Regions from separate parts of the Homo sapiens genome. Here regions 2, 3 and 4 are each linked to region 1. Evidence: fine-mapped expression QTL. A gene starts in region 1. Each other region holds a variant in brackets. All regions are shown on one strand. Distances are from middle to middle. Region 1 holds the start of TLE4 (TLE family member 4, transcriptional corepressor). Region 2 has its middle 340 kb from the start of LNCARSR. Region 3 overlaps TLE4 (TLE family member 4, transcriptional corepressor). Region 4 overlaps TLE4 (TLE family member 4, transcriptional corepressor).

Region 1 (4,166 bases):
CTCCAAAACGTCACAAGGGAATTTCTTTAATGTTCTACAAAGAGATTAATGAAAATATGAATCAAGCATGTCTTATGAATGATATCTTGTTTTTTTCCCTCCAAAACACACAGACAAGTTGAATACCACCACCCAGGGGCAAAGTGTCAATCGGGTTCAGTGGTTTGTTTTGGTTCTTGCATTTATGAAATAAGAATTAGGCATCATTAAAAAGCCAGCTAAAGAAAAATGTCTCAAAGGCACCCTAAGTCTAAAAATCGTCTATAAGATGAAAACATTTTTTTTTTTTTTAGCATAAAAGTAATGAAATCGCTCACTCCGACTTCCCTGGGCTCTCAGCTCTTCAGTGGAATGGCAGAAAAAAGTGAGAAGGAATCAAGTCCGGAGTAATAAAGAACCAAGGATGTCAAAAGGCCCCAGAATCTTCCCAACCTTTCATTCTCCCGGCCCCAATAAATCAATATCGAAAGTTTGGCCTCAGCGTTTTCCAAGTCTCCCCAGTTTCGATTGTTCTGCCTTCTTTTTATTTACGGTAGAAGAAATGTTTAATTTATTTACACCTGCCTAAGGAAGGAGGCCTTGATTTGCCCTTTCTGCCCACCGAGAAAAAAAAATAATACCTTTGTGACGCCCCCACAAAAAAGGAGGAGGGTAAGTGTTTGTGTGTATTTGTCGGGGAGACAAGAGCTAAGCAAACAGAAGGATCAGCTAAAGTCAATATCGTTACCTGTGGTATTGAGCCTGTAAAAACTGAAACTCTTCCTTAATCCGATCACAGGATTCGGAAATTGTAAATTTAAAGGGTTGAGCAGGCTGATGCGGTGCCTGAAGAACAACAATAAAATATTTAATTAGCCCACATCACAGGCGAAGCAGGGAGACGGAGAAAACCTACTATGCGGCGTTAGCGGGGGGTGAGGGTCATCGCGCACGCAAGCAAAGAGAGATTAAAACTCTCCTCCCGCAACCCTCCTCGCGCCCAACAGCCCAGGCAGAGGCTGGTTTCGAGGTGGTCCTGGGGCCCCGCATACTCCCGCCCGCAGGCCCCCGCGCCCCGGACCCCGAGGGTTCGAGTCCCGTCTCCCCTCCCCGGCCAAAGACAGGCACCCAGGGACCCGCGCGCCGCGCCCACTCCCTCCTCACCCGGAATCGAAACTGGCCCGTCGGGGGGACCCGCGCCATGGCGTCGGGCTGCGGTCAGGCCGGGGGAGGAGGGAGGCGGCCGCCACCCTCTCGGCTCGTTCGTTCGCCCGCTCGCCCCGGCGGCCCGCGGCGCGAGGGGCCGGCGCCCCGCACTTCCAAACCGCAGCCAGCCCAGCAGCGCCGCTGCCGAGGGCGCCCTCCCCGCCCGGGCGCGGAGTCGCGCCTCCTTCATCGCTCGCCACCCCCCCTCGAGGAGTCGCGGCGCGGGGACCGCAAACGGCTCGGCGCGGCTTCCAGGGGCTTCAAAGACAACAATAAGAAAATGGCTACAACTCAATTGCCTCTCCGCACCCCCTCCGAGGGCCACCGCGCCGGGGGGTGGGGGTGATGGCGGGCGGGCTGCTCCCGGCGCGGGGCGCCGATTTCGGGCGGCTCTCCACGCCCCTCCGGCCAAAAGACACAACTCGGTGCGCAGGGGGCGACGCGGGGAATCCCCCAGCACCCGGCGAGCCCGCGCCCCGCCGCCCGCACTCACTGGGTGTCTGGTCTGCGGGTACATCTTGCTCAGGTCGCGAATCATCCAAGCCGATTTAGTTGGCTGCGCTCGGCAGAGGCGCGCGGCTCATTGGCTTTAATGACCCCGAAGAGGAGGCGGCCGCGGCAGCGGAGGCGGCCGGCTCGGTCTGAGGGGCGGCTCGGGCGGTCCCGGCCCCCGCCGGGTCTCGCGTGACACGGGCGGCAGGAACGCGCGGCGGCGGCTGGGTGCCGGCTGCCGGGCCGCTCCGCATTCCCCGCGGGCGTCACTGGCCCGCCGCGGGCATTGTCCGGCGCGCGTCTCCCAAGGCAACGCTCCGACGTTCGCTCCGCCGAGGCGCACCCGCCGAGCCCGGCGCCGCGGCCGCCGCTCACCCGGCCGGGAAAGTGCGGGCTCCGCGCCCCACCGCCCGCCGGCAGCTCCTCTCGCTCGCTCTGCGTCCCACTCCAAACTTTTTTTATTTGTCTTTTAATTGGTTGTTATTCCTCCGAATGAATGATCTTTCTTCTTCCCTAAAAGCAAACACAAACTCCTTTGGTTCGGAAGAGGTCTCGGCGGTGCTTTTTGGTTTCTCTGGAGATTTTTTTCACTTCACAGCAACGATCTTTTAAAAGGCACCTTTTAGCTTCTTTTACCACATCTCATTTCCTTATTTCTCTTCCTTCCTGTTTTCTTGTCTTTTTTTTAACCCCAAATTGAAGGGGATTATAAAAATAAAAGAGTGAAACGCTTGCGGCTTTTTTTTTTAATTCTCTCTCCTTTCAAACTCTGCGAACACCACCTCAAAATAATATACAAGTGTGTGAGAAAGGGGGAAGAAAGCAGCCAACAACCCAAACACCCGCTCAGCACAGCTCTAACAACACGCTCTGTGTAGGTGACTTCTTTGACCAAATTTAGCAGCAGCTAATCATTAACATTCTGATACATATTCACAATCTTCCGCGGGGCGGCCGCGCAGCATCCCGGGAGATGTAGTCCGCCCCGGGCGACCCTGCCTGAGAATACGGCCAGATTGACTACAATCACCGGCCCGCCATGCGAGCGCTCTGGCGAGCTCTCCAAGCGCCCCGCCCACCCCCGTTGCGGTAGGCGTCTCCACCAACCAATCAGAGGTGGCTGAACATTAATCGCCGTTCTGTGTTAGTGCCCATCATTTCACTGCTGACAAATGGCAAGCCAGCGGGGAGGAGCCAACCCAGCTGAAACCCACGTGGGGGCCGGGCGTCGCCTGTAGCTCCGACCAATTAACGAAGAGGAATGAGGTTGGCGGAGGCGGGGCGGAGATGGCCCGCCCAAGGCGGAGCTTCGCCTTGGCTGACGTTCCTTAGCGCGAGCGTTCGAACCGGGAAAACATTTGTTCAGCTGTCAATCAAAGTAACGTGGGGCTGGGAGAATCGGCGGCTGCTGCTGTTGCTGCTGCCCTGGCTGCATCTTCAGAATTAGGTGTTGGTGGTGGTGGTGGTGGTGGCGGCAAAATAAAGAGGGTGGAGGGAGCGGTGAGCCTGGGGGCTGGTCAAAAGATCTTCTTCCGAGTCTCGTCCTCCCGCCCACCCGTCTCCCAACCCAGACACCTTCGGCCCCTCGCTCCGCAGCCGCGCCAGGAATGCGGACTAATTAGGGTCCAATGTCTCCTTAAAGAGACAAGCTCGGCCTTGTGTAACGCGCCGAAACCCCTGTTGAGACAAGAGGGGGAGGATCACGCTGATCTTACTTCGTTCGGTTCACATCAATTTTACGCGCCGCTGGAGCCGGCATAATTTTCCGTGTGAACGCGACTCGGTCCCCGTTCTTGTTTAGAGCCAGAAATGGAGTCGCGAGATGCTGGCTGGGGCCGGGGCCGCGGGGTGGGCGGGGAGCTCGTCCCTCCAAGCCCCGCGGGGGCTGTGATTGCCATTTAGTTCCGAAACAGGCCTCCCTCCCTCCACCCCCGGAGGCACTCGGAGAGAAAGCGCATCCCGACGCTCCATCGGGGGTCGCGGGGGGCAGTAACCGTGGGGGCTCCGGGTGGGGCTGAAGATCCGGGAATCAGAGACGCTGGACCTCCAAAGAAACTTTGCCGACTGGGCCACGTGAACCCCGAACACGGTCGGTACTGAACAGAGCAGGCCGACGGGGCACGGGTAGAAAACGCCCCTGCGCGCCCTGGGACGTTCCCTCCCCCAGATCAGTACCAAGACTGCGCCTCTTTTTCCCGCTCTTTGGAGAAGCAAGTCAAGTTTATCCCCGTTAAAAACAGAGCAGGGTGCCACGCGGGCCCGAGAGATGGCGGAAAGGTGGGGGTGGCCCCAGGGGCAGATGCTGGAGGAGGAGAGAAAGGGGCAGCCATGGCTGAGGAGGGGCACCCCTAGGGAGGGGCCTGGGAAATGGGGGCGGCCTCCGTCAGTGCGCCTTTCCATCCTTAGTCCGTGTCCAGCTGGAGGCAGCGCCCCAGTTCAAGGGGAGGCTGCTGAGGCTCGCAGTCTTTTCTAGCGAGCGGCTAATCTTG
Region 2 (4,166 bases), 350 kb after region 1:
AACAATCAGAGGTACTTTTCATTTTTCCTCTACGATGAAGTGCAAAAAGAGTAGCCTCTGATCCTTTTGTTACTTTGGTGTGGAGAGGTGGGGTTTTCCTTTCGATTCGTTCTAGGAAGTTAGTGCAAATCAGTCATAGGTTCCCTGCCTCCAGATCCTATTCTCCTTCCTCACAAATGGCCAGGAACTGCTCTGAGTGCTTGGTTATATAACATATAACATGACTGTATTAGAAAGCCTTGGAACCTCCCTTGGGGAATCTTGGAGAAAGTCAAGTTCAGTGTCCTTACTTTAAAGATAAAGAAAATGAAGCCCAGAGAGGTTATTAAATTATGAACTTCTTTAAGAAAGAGACCTAAAGTCTCTCTAGGCTCTTTGTTGTTAGTTGCCTTGTATTAATAAATCGGTGATTCATAAGATTTTATTTTTAAGTGTTTTAAGAGATACAGCATAATTTAAAACATTCAGTTGGCCAGGCACAGTGGCTCATGCCTGTAATCTCAGCACGTTGGGAAGCCGAGGCAGGCAAATCACGAAGTCAGGAGTTCGAGACCATCCTGGCCAATATGGTGAAACCCCATATCTACTAAAAATACAAAAATTAGCCGGGCATGGTGGCAGGCGCCTCTAGTTCCAGCTACTCGGGAGGCTGAGGCAGAAGAATCACTTAAACCCGGGAGGTGGAGGTTGCAGTGAGCCGAGATCGCGCCATTCCACTCCAGCCTGGGAGATAGAGTGAGACTGCTTCTCAAAAAACAAACAAACAAACAAACAAAACATTAAATTATAGATCACATAAAACCTTATTTGTTATAAATACTTTGATATGGTGAAATGTATGAATATGTACATAGTTCTCAGATACTTGGATTTTGAACATTAAAAAGCAAATAATTTTAAAAGATGAAAATCAAACAGAAAAAATAGGTTGGTGCAAACATAATTGTGGTCTTCGCCATTAAAAGTAATGGCGAAGACTGCAATTACTTATCCACCAGCTAATAATTTATACAAATGAACCAAATGAAGACTGTTGATCAAAAATCGAAGAATCTTTGCCTTAGGGAAGAGCATGTCATTGGCAACATCTCCAGTGAAAGTCTTTTGGGGCAGCAATGATACTCTGAATGTGACCTTGGTTGGGTAGCCCGAGAGACATAAGCAAGAGAAAGACCAGGAAGAAACTAGAGCCAATTCAGTGCTGATGAATGAAAACCCCACCACTATCTTTCACTGGATCCCCAGATTTGTGGTAACCCCAGTAGTCAGAGTCCTCATGAGCAAGAAGCATTCAGCTGTAGCCCCTGTTAATAGGGTGGCCTCAGGAAGAAAGCTGAAAATAAACTTTCAGTTTGTCTCTTGTCAATGTCTTCTTGATAACAGATTAAATAGCTTGAAAAGGTAAAAATTAGACTCTCAAAGTCTCTTGAAAGCAAAAAGCAATTAATAATTTGAAGGGTCATTTGCTATCTTTTTGTACTTTTTGCCCCACTAAACAATGACTAAAATAGTCAAAATTGATTAAATACCTAGTTGCATCAGGAGTTGGGCTAAGTGCTTTTCGTACATTGTTCTATTTGAATCTTTGATTCAAACTTTGCAAGGTGGATGTTTAATAGAGAAATTAAGGCTCATATAGATGGAATACACTTGTCCAAAATCAAAGGGTAAGGGAGGGTGCCAGATTTTGAATTCAGTTTTCTCCTACTTCAAAGCCCATGTCCAACCAAATATGCAGAAACCCTGTTTATGGCATAATGGATTAGATTTATTCTAGTGTGCATTTTTTTGTGATGCTTTGGCTGGCTATGTTGACCAATTGATTACCTGATTATGAGAAAGAGTGAGATGAAGAAATTAGTAATATCAGTGAAATTGTATCAAACAGGACTGAATGAAAACAACAGAACTTTATGGAAAGACATTCATAGGGCCCTCTGATTCCAGTGACATACATATGACATCTGACAACAGGTCATCAAATATGATGACTCAAATGTATCACAACATGTAATGAGAATTGTATCACAGATTATTCTTACTTTACTCATTAGTTGTCCGCCCCGCAAAGTATGAATTGAACAAAATGAAACAAAACTAAACTCAACTAAATCTGAATTCTTTCTTCAGGATATTGCATTATCCCCAGAAAAACACTGTATGTCTGATAAAACACAACTATTGGGAGAAAACACTGAAGTTGTGTTTTAAGACTGCTCTGTTTATGCCAAAGCATTAAAGTTTTCTGAAGATTAAAAACATCTTGCTTCTAATAGAAACCTCTGAGAAGAAACATGTGCCCTCCAAATCTGCAGAAGATGCAAAATTTATTGAGGAAATTACTAGAATATAAATGGTAACAGATAAAAAAGGAAAAAAATGAGTACAAATTAGTTTTTTCTTTTCCTTTCTCCAAGACAATATGCTCTGCTTAAAAATAAATTAAAAGTTCATTATGAGAGAGAGAACTTAGCTTGGAAGAGCTGTGTGTGTGTGTGTGTGTGTGTGTGTGTGTGTGTGTG[C/T]GCGCGCGCGCGCGCGCTTACATTCCTAACTCAATGATTTATTTTTCTCCACCAACAACAGAGTATAATACTATATGAATTTAGATCAAAGAAAAAGTAATATGGACTACAGAGAGTGTTTTAAAAGGAGAAGGAGGAAGGGAATGAAGGAAAGGAGGGAGGGAAGAAAAGAAGGAATGAAGAAGCCAGGCGCAGTGGCTCATGCCTGTAATCCCAGCACATTGGGAGGCCAAGGCAGGTGGGTCACTTGAGGTCTGGTGTTTGAGACCAACCTGGCTAACATGGCAAAGCCCCATCTCTACTACAAATACAAAAATAAGCCGGACGTGGTGACACACAACTGTAATCCCAGCTATTTAGGAGGCTGAGGTATGAGAATCACTTGAACCTGGGAGGCAGAGATTATAGTGAGCTGAGATTGTGCCACTGCACTCCAGCCTGGACAACAGAGTGAGGCTCTGTCTCAAAAACAGAAAGAAAGAAAAAAAAGAAGTAGGAATGAAGGGAAGGAGGGAGGGGGTAGGGAGGGAAAGAAGGATTATGGTTCACTGGCATCAAAAAAAATATATGCATAACTAAGGCTATAGCCAAGTGAACTTCAGGAAAGCCAGAACAAATAGTACTGGGAGAGGAAAAATATTCTGTGGTTCTTAAACCAGTTGCCCAAGTGCCAGTGCTATTCATTGCTTAAGGTTTGGCAAATATGTTCTTTAACTCAGGTAAAGTAGAGTTCAAGTTTTTAAAAACAAGATTTATAAAATTTATCAAAGTCTTTGGTGGGTTTATGTTACCTTGCAAGTAGAGTAAAATTTCAGACTCTTCACAGTTTTTGACATGCTAGCAGAAGACATGAGAGTCCTGGGTCAGAGACAAAAAACTTTATTACTCATTGCACAGCAAGCATGGGTTTCCTTTGTCTAGGCAGGGAGATGTGGAGGGTTCTAGGTAGATGCTGCACACACTATGCTTTTATGTCACAGTTGAGAAAAGCTGAGCTTAGGGAACCTGAATTTTTTATAATATGCAATAAACAAACCTGCTTGCCCTTTGCTCCTGATAGAGACTTTCTGTTTATTATACTTGGCAGTATGAAAACCTGCCCTCTGCTCCAGAAGGAGACACTATCTTCCAAGGTTGTTAGCTATCCAGACATCTATGAAAAGATAGCCCAGAAGGAAACCACACTGAGGACATTCAGAGACATGACAGGTTCATGGAAAATTGTCTTCTGACAGAACCATAAGGGTATTATACTAAAAATTCTAAGTGTGGATCAGTAATGAATTCCTAGGGAGATCCCTTAGATCATAGATTTGGCAACTCATCAGCTGAGCCTGCTCAACTGTCCTTTCATGTGTGAGTTACAGGTAGGATGATAATCAGAGTAGGAAAGACCTCCTGCGAGCCTCCAAATATCTGCCTCATATGGCTTAATAATTAGTATTGTATTTGGTAGCAAGCTTCTCAATTACAAATTAGACAAATTATTTTGAGCTTTCTGATTGCATATTATTCTATCTATCTATTTATGATATTTAGAATGAGGTTATGCAGGGATTACAAAGCCAAATGTCTACAAGCCCTGGCAAGTAACCAAAATGTGAAGTGAGTCATGTATGCACTGTAGCAGAGTTTCTCAATCTC
Region 3 (4,166 bases), 28 kb before region 1:
ACACCATTAATAGGCAGTAATATTTTGAAAGAAATCTTTTTTTCTGAGCAGTAGGTCTCAACAATGGGATTAAAATATTCAGTAAACCATGCTATAAACAGCTGTGCTGTCACCCAGGCTTTGTAGTTCCATTTATAGAACACAGGCAGGGTAGATTTAGCATAATTCTTAGAGGCGCTAGGATTTTTGGAATGATAAATGAGCATTGGCTTCAAGTTAAAGTCACCAGCTGCATTAGTCACATAACAAGGGAGTCTGTCTGTCCTTTGAAGATTTGAGGCCAGTCACTGACATCTCTTCTCTAGCTATGAAAGTCCTAGATGGCATCTTCTTCCAATAGAAGGCTGTCTTATCCACACTGCAAATCTGTTGTTTGGTGTAGCCACCTTCATCAATGATCTTAGCTAGATCTTCTAGATAACTTGCTGCAGATTCCACATCAGTACTTGCCGCTTCACTTTGTACTTTCACATTATGGAGATGGTTTCTTTCATTAAACTTAATGAACCAACCTCTGCTAGCTTCAAACCTTTCTTCTGCAGCTTTCTCATCTCTCTCAGCCTTCATAGAATTGAAGAGAGTGAGGGGTTTTGCTCTGGATTAGGCTTTGGCTTAAGGGAATATTATGGCTGGTTTGAGCTTCTATCCAGACCACTAAAACTATCCCTATTTCAGCAATAAGGCTGTTTCATTTTCTTACCACTGGAGTAGCACTTTTAATTTCCTTTAACTTCTTTTTACTTGCATTTATAACTTGGCTGTTGGGCACAACGCACCTAGCTTTTGGCTCATTGGCTTTCGACATGCCTTCCACTCTAAGGTTAATCATTTCTAGATTTTGATTTAAAGTGAGAGATGTGAGACTCTTCCTCTCATTTGTACACTTAGAGGCCCTCCCGTGTAGGGTTATTAATTGGCCTAATTTCAATACTGTTGTCTCAGAGAATGGGGAAGCCTGAGGAGAGGGAAAGAAGGGGGAATAGCATGAAGCAGTCAGAACACACACATTAATTAAGTTTGCTGTCTGATGGGGGCACAGTTCACGGCACTCTAAAACTATTACAATAGTAACATCAAAGATCACTAACCACAAATCATGTAACAGATAAAGTAATAATAAGAAAGTTTGAAACATTGTGAGAGTTACCAAAATGTGACACAGAGACACGAAGTGAGCACAGGCTATTGGAAGAACAGCTCCATTCAGGGTTGCTACAGCCTTCAATTTGTGAAAAACAGTCTCTGTGAAGCACAATAAAGCAAGACCCAGTAAAACAAGGTATGCCTGTAGCTAAAGCACATTAATATATCAACCATAAAGGAATATCTATCCAGAAAACTTGCTTAAATTCTGATATGGTTTATTTAGTTTCCCATCACACATCTTTTCTGGCATTTAGGATACCATGCTATTCAAAAGAATAATAAATTATCATAGTGTGCAACAAAAGGAAATGCAAATTCATTCTGGACAATTCCTGATGGGTGAATAAATGATTAAAGCTTCCTATCTGAAACCTTGGCAAAATATGTGTTTTAAAGATTATTTTAAAATATAATAAAGGAAATGCAGCTCAACCTCCTTCTTGAGATTATTTATACCAGATTGCTGATCACCTGACCCACTGGACTGATGGATTTGTTAGAAGCACCCTAGGAGAGCACCTTGTATACAGCGTTCATGAGAAATCTCTATAATGTTATCTCGAGTGAACCAACTTGATGATTTTAATAGCCCAAGGAAAGGGCCTACTCATGCGACGGCATCACTAGGTCCACAGGAAGTAAAAGGTCAGTTCCTGATAATTCAAGGTGTGGTGGTGGAGCTCAGGAATTATACACACTACAATGTGTAGACGAGTTCGTGCTTATTAACCCTGCTCAAAACAACACAGTTAGAGCCAGGCTTGGG[G/A]AGCCATGGGCACAGCTGCAGCATGAGGACCCCTAGAGAGAACAGGCTATTCAAATCCCTTCTGAACAAGGTCCAAGAGTTGCTGCAGCATCACGTGTTGAGCAGCAGGCAACCGAACTTGGGATTCCACATACGGATTCTGATACACAAACTGCCTCCCCACTGTCCCTGACAAACCTGTCTGAATACTCTCACACTGTAGGAGGGTTTTAATTATTAGGAAGTTTTTACTGAAATTAATTCCTTGTCTGTTTTTGTGTGTTTTTGTTGTTGGGGTGGTGTACTGCACACAAAGTCCACTACCATTCACTGATTCCTCACTCAAGTTCCTTCAATGGCTGGGGGAAGCCACCCGAGACAGGCTGAGAAATCAGAAAAAACAAGTCCCCAACCACAAACTGAAAACTCTCTATAATCAGAAAAATAACAGCATTTTCCCTATAATCAGGCTCACATCCACTTTTGTTTGTTTTCTTCTTTTTTAATACTTGACTAGGCAGGTTGAGAAAATTAAAGGTAAAGCAAACTATTGTGTTCCTATATTCCTAGTTACTTTTAAAATGTACTTCAGGTTGCTTTTAAATTAAATTCTGTAGGCAATTTAAAATATTTAAACAAATGCACCTTAGAAAAAGCCTAAACCACGAATGCATTACTGCCCGTGTATTTTTGCCCATTCAACAAATACTTATTAAATATCTACTTACTATTTGTCAGGACTATTGTAGATGCTGAATGAAGACAGAGGGGTGAACAAGACAAGTAAATCCCTGCGGTCATGGAGCTCACATCATAGGTGGAGGGAGACAGAAGCAAACATACAAGTATATAAAGAGGAATTTCAGATACTGAGAAGTGCTATGAAGACAAAATTGGGGGTGTAAGAGAGAGCCCTGGGGCAGGAGGTGGGTCTGATTTGGATGACATGATCAGGGAAGGACAAAAAAAGAAGTGACTCAAAAGTTGAGAAGTGGCTAAAAACATTTTCTATACCACATGTTGCAGATGTTATTAACAAGTATTATATACATAAAAGTGTCTCTTATCAGACGACCTCACACACTATGAAGAAAGTTAAACAGTTTTCTTTACTGTTGGGTATCTTAGAGCCTTTCATTTGATAGTGTTCGTTGTACATCTTTGGAAAGGAGCACATTAAAAGCAATTACTACTCAAGCTTCTTTGACTTTGGGACCCTTTCTCGTCAAAATTCGGAGAGGAGATGATATTCCGTGGGAAACACTGAGCTTGTCAGTAGTTTCTAGCCCTGGCCTTACATCAGCATTACTAGTGGACCTTTCACAAACACCCACACCCAGGCCTCACTCCAGACGAATTAACTCACAATCTCCAAAGACAGGACCCTGGCTTCAGTTTTTAAAGCTCCCCAGGTGAATCTAATGTGCAGGCAGGATTGAAAACCATTAAGCTAGAGCACAGGATGCATGCAATAAAAAATAGAGTGGAAAATAAGGACAGAAGAGGTTCACTGGGGTCAGACTATGGAAGGTCTTGAATGCCACACTAAGGGGTTTGAACTTTATTTAGAAGGCAGTAAGGGCCCATCAAGGTCAATTCCTAGGAAAGTTATGATAAGTACCAGACAGGTCAAGACACCACAGTGCATTTCTGTCCTCCATCCTCCTCTTGGCACTGATTATATTTAATGTTGTGGACGGAAAGAAGAGATTTATAACCACAAAACATACCACAAGAGGAAAGATGGAGGATGAAAGATAATTTCAGAATAGGAACAAAATGAATTTCCAAAGCACCTCAGACTTAGGAAATTCAACAAGATGTTTTCAGTTACTGGCTCCTACTCTAAACTAGAAGCTCTGGTAGAAACAGCAGTTCTGAATGCAAAACTGATCTGAACTCGAGGTGTTTATAATCTGGGGGGGGAAGATCAAATATAAATAAACACAATAACAAACGCCATGTGTTAAGTGCCCTAGCTACTACACAGAGGAGCCCTGGAAATCTAAGAGTGAGGAGGGGAAGAAAACCCTTCTGGCTTTGGGGAGAGAGTAATGTGAGCCATATTAATTTCATAACTTTCGATTATTGTCTGCTACTCTGCCATATACTGCATTATAGTCTGAAAAAAACAGTACAGGAACAAGATAGGACTTACAGAGTCCATAATCTAGCAAATGAGACAGACATTGAAACAAATACAGAATGCAGGGTATTTTTAAATGCTTTTTAGAGGACTATTTCCCTGAGTAACTGAGGGTAAAATGAGTCTGAC
Region 4 (4,166 bases), 120 kb before region 1:
ACAAAGTGGTACCCAGTACTTAAGACAGATGTTAAAGAATAAATTCTGATCCTTACTCAAAAAACTTAGATAAAGGTTAAGCCATATTTATGTGACCAAGAGAAAACTGAATTGTAAGAGCATAATGAGGCATTAGTAAGAAATGACACTTCACGTTTATGAAGAGGTGAAATTTACCCACTGACACTTCCTATGGGAGGGGTAGACCTGGAACTGCTTGGGAAGAATTAGCATTACTAGGACCCAAATCTGCACTGAGGCTATTTCAAGCATGTGCATGTGAGGTGGCTAGGCTTAGGCTAAGTCTGGAAAGAAAGAGAGGAAGAGTAAGGTATAGAGCAACAAGGACCCCCAAAAGGAGTCTTAAAATCTGGGATGGGGTCATGGTTGGAATGAGACAAATCAGCAAGGAGTAAATAATTCAAAGGACCGGGCAGTGGTTCTAAGGTCTGTCAGGGGATAAGAATCACCTGTGGAGCTTTCAAAAAGCCCCATCTGGAACCCACCCCAGAACAATTAAATCAGACGCTGTCCAGAGAGGGTAGGCTTAAGTAAGTGGCCTGGATACAGGCAATCTTAAAAGCTCCCAGGTGATTCTAAAGTTGACAACCTCTGACCTAAGGCATATTCAGATAATCAACAAGCCACTGTGATTGCTATCAATTACCACTCCTAATCAACTAGACCTGCTTACCTATCAGCACAAGTCACCTTCATCCTTTCTGAGAGCACAATTAGCTCAGCAACAAATCCCAGACTTTCTCTCCCTATAAGCCAGTCACGTCAGGATGAACTACATTTCAAAACCACAGTTGGGAGAGAGAAAAAACGCAATCATAACCATGTCATAAGATGAGGCAAGATGCTCTTTACGCACTTCTGAATACTGAATGCAGTGCTTCCATGCTTGACTCTACAATGCTGACAAAGTGATGTATTTTGAGTGCCATAATTAAAACAATAATCTCAATAAAGTGGGCATTATGAGATAATTGCCCATCCTCAGGTATTAAGCAAACTGTGGTAAAAGCCAAGGATACTCATCGCCAAGGTCAATTACAATAATTGCTTATTTGAATTACATTATTGCTATTGTAAACCCTGCCTGATTAAGAAAAAAAAAAAACAACAATAAAAATTGATGTAACACACACCACAGGGAAATTGACCTGAGAAGGAGTTCTTGTTCTACTACTGGTCATTTAAGAATTCTTATCAACTTTGCAAAGCCTCCACTTACATACGCCCTATGCCTTTAAACATACCCACACACACACATACACATTTCCTTGGTTTTGCAGTCTGAATTCATCAAGGAAATATGCCTATCAGAAATTAGAGAAGTGGCTTATAAGAGCAACATATGGAAACATATAGGAAAATGGAGTAGTGGGTCAAGCTAATAATAAAATTAGAGGGTAGAGAAATGCATTACTCTGTGAGTTCATTCATTTTTCATCAACACATTACAGAAGAGGTCATCACTGCCTTTTGCAGAAACTGAGTCTCTCAGTTATGCTGGCTTATAGCTTGGGGGAAGATATGT[T/C]GTCCTCCACATGCCACTGTCAGCTTGTCTAGATTAACACTCAGGCAGCTCAAGTAACCAATGGTCAACCAGAAAAGCTCTGAAGATGAGATGGAAGAAAACAGAATTTTTGACCTTCCTTCAGCTAATTGGAATGTATTTGGCAATTGAAGAGTATAAAACTTCTTTTTAAGTTGTGATTAAACATCGAGGCTTTGATGTTTTATACGGCATTCTTCCCCACAATTAACTTCATTAGTGCAGTTAATTAGTGGGGAAGAATATCGTATAAACATCAAAGCCTCAGTGTTTAGTGTCACCATCAGTTCAGCTAAACAGTAATAAAGAAATAATTTCTTAAAACACATTTATGCATGCTCAGCACTTCTATTTACAAGCTTAAAGTGTATGATAGGAACATATTAAAAAATATCCAAAGATGCTATCTATACTGCAATCCAACTGCACTGACAGCAACAAGACACCATTTAATGTAGTATAATTAAGTGCCCAAGAACGCCACATAAAGCAAAAGAATTGAGACATTTAATCAGTTATGAGGACTGTTATAAATCTACCATTACTGTGAAATGAAGGAATGGCAGATAACCAAGGGAAACAGTCACAAAAACTATGTAACCTGAAGGCTAATTCTAATTAGGCATTAGATAGTGGGTTTTCAGTCTTTCGGGGGTTGAAGGGGAGAAGGCCAAGCTATAAAATAAGAACTGCAGATGGCAGGTCCTTATAAGCACTATAGGACAGCACGAAGTATACTGTGACCTTTCCTTTGGTAGACAGTGTGCAGAGATGGTGAGACTATTAAAATGTGAAGACCAGCAAGGTGGGCCTTCTCAACGTGGAACAAGGGAAGGAAGTTCTCATCTTTAGGTGGGAGGGACCAGAGAAATCATCTAGCCTCTTGCTACTCAAAAAAGTGTGGTCCACTGTCCAACAGCATCTCCTGAGGGCTTGTTAGAAATGCAGAATCCCAGTCTCACTGCCAGACCTACTGAATCGTGTGCTTTTAACGCTCATTAAAAGTTTGAGAAGCACTTGTCTACCTCAACCTCTTCACTTTGAACAGGAGGAAACTTGAATCCTAGGGGACGAAGTAACTCATGCAAGGTCACAAAGGGCTGATAGTTGAAGACAGGCCTCTGATTTTAAGGACTGCCTCTTATAGGAGGCTCAGCAAATTACACTTGTGTATTGTGAAAAGAAACCAGCCTGTACAAAGAGCAGTAAGGCAACATCAAGAAAAGAGGGCAAGGAAGAGGCCAAGGAAGGGCAAGGAAGAGGCCAAGGAATGACAAGGGACTTGCTTCATTAGGGTTGACAATTCTGGATTCAAATATATTTGATGTAGGCTGAGAACTCTATCAAACATGTAAGAAGTAAAAACTACTTAAGTTCTATAAAAATGAAAGACGAGGAAAAAAGAATGTTACAAAATTTTATTTTGTTTTGTTTTCTGAAAAGATTAGAGAAGGAAAAGCTCTGAGGTCTCCACTTGAGAGATATTTTTGAAGGGAGAGACAAGGAAGAAAATCTGGCACCCATGGGGCCACCACATATGACCACACAGGATGTAGATGCTACAACTCCAGGAAACACCAGAACATCGTAGATTCATGTGAATTGCGCTTCTGTATAACTTGTACGTGGCCATGGCAACACTAACCCAAGCCCATGAGCAAGTGAGGAGCATGGTGAGCTCGTTGCATCACCCACGGCTGGATCCAAGGGCAATTACGATTCGGGGGAGAAGAAGAATGTAGGCTACATAAACGCAAACTGAGGCAATACTGTCATTATTGCTAATCTATAATTACTGTGTGTCTTCCCAGTGAAATGTGAGCTGCATGTGGGCAGAAATTTATTCAGGGTTTTCACCACAGTATCCCCAGAGCCTAAGTGCAGTGTCTGCACCTGACCAGATGATACCAAATGACAAAATTTTAAAAGCTTTTAACATGTACAGTTCTGGGGCTTATTAAACGTAGATGCTCACTGGATTTAGCATCATACAGCAAGTACTTCACTGATGATGAAACACAACTGACAGATAAACTTCGCTCTTGGGAGCCATTATTAGTTTCCTGGGGCTGCCACAACAAACCACCACAAACTAGGTGGCTTAAAGCAACAGACATTTATTTCTTGCGGTTCTGGAGTCTGCAAGTCTGAAAACAAGGCATTGGCAGGACCATGCTCCCTCCAAAGGCTCCAGGGAAGAATGCTTCTTTGCCTCTTCCAGCTTCTGGTGGTTGCTGGCAATCCTTGGCATTCTTCGGTTTGTGGCAGCACAACTCCAGTCTTTCCTCTTTGCTTTCTCATGGCCTTCCTTTCTGTGCCTCCTCTGTATCGTCAAACCTCTCTCTCCTTATAAGGACATGAGTCACTGGATGCAGGGCCAACTTGATTCCCGGATGACCTCATCTTAACTCGATGACATCTGCCAAGACCCTATTTCTAAATAAAGTCACAGTCACAGGTACCGGGGATCAGAATTTTATTACATCTTTTTGAGACACAATTCAACCCCGAAGAGAAACCAACATTACAGATGTTTTGATAATGTTTAGAAACTGGTTGTTGGTTCAAAGCTTTTAAAAAAGTTTTAAAAAGATTAATATGC

What was found. PIP is the estimated chance that this variant, and not a neighbour inherited with it, causes the effect.
Region 2: its variant is the best candidate, but not a certain one, in a credible set for the expression of TLE4 in fibroblasts (GENCORD, PIP 0.54).
Region 3: its variant is the best candidate, but not a certain one, in a credible set for the expression of TLE4 in whole blood (INTERVAL, PIP 0.76).
Region 4: its variant is the best candidate, but not a certain one, in a credible set for the expression of TLE4 in whole blood (TOPMed, PIP 0.52).

What each region holds. Positions count from the first base shown.
Region 1 is chr9:79,570,348-79,574,513 of GRCh38, reverse strand. TLE4 (TLE family member 4, transcriptional corepressor) reads right to left here and starts at 2,549. Exons shown (of 20, transcript NM_007005.6): 1 at 1,679-2,549; 2 at 728-825. The coding sequence starts at 1,723. RefSeq lists silencers at 938-1,177, 1,198-1,667, 1,778-1,937, 1,998-2,117, 4,028-4,077 and enhancers at 1,008-1,620, 2,348-2,437, 2,478-2,527, 2,538-2,667.
Region 2 is chr9:79,224,891-79,229,056 of GRCh38, reverse strand. No RefSeq gene overlaps it. Among named protein-coding and RNA genes, the nearest start is that of LNCARSR, 340 kb to the left of the region's middle. The variant C/T (reference allele first, on the strand shown) is at 2,523.
Region 3 is chr9:79,598,491-79,602,656 of GRCh38, reverse strand. All of the region lies in intron 4 of TLE4 (TLE family member 4, transcriptional corepressor), which reads right to left. Among named protein-coding and RNA genes, the nearest start is that of TLE4, 29 kb to the right of the region's middle. The variant G/A (reference allele first, on the strand shown) is at 1,913.
Region 4 is chr9:79,686,288-79,690,453 of GRCh38, reverse strand. The region is part of intron 8 of TLE4 (TLE family member 4, transcriptional corepressor); the gene reads right to left. Among named protein-coding and RNA genes, the nearest start is that of TLE4, 120 kb to the right of the region's middle. The variant T/C (reference allele first, on the strand shown) is at 1,547.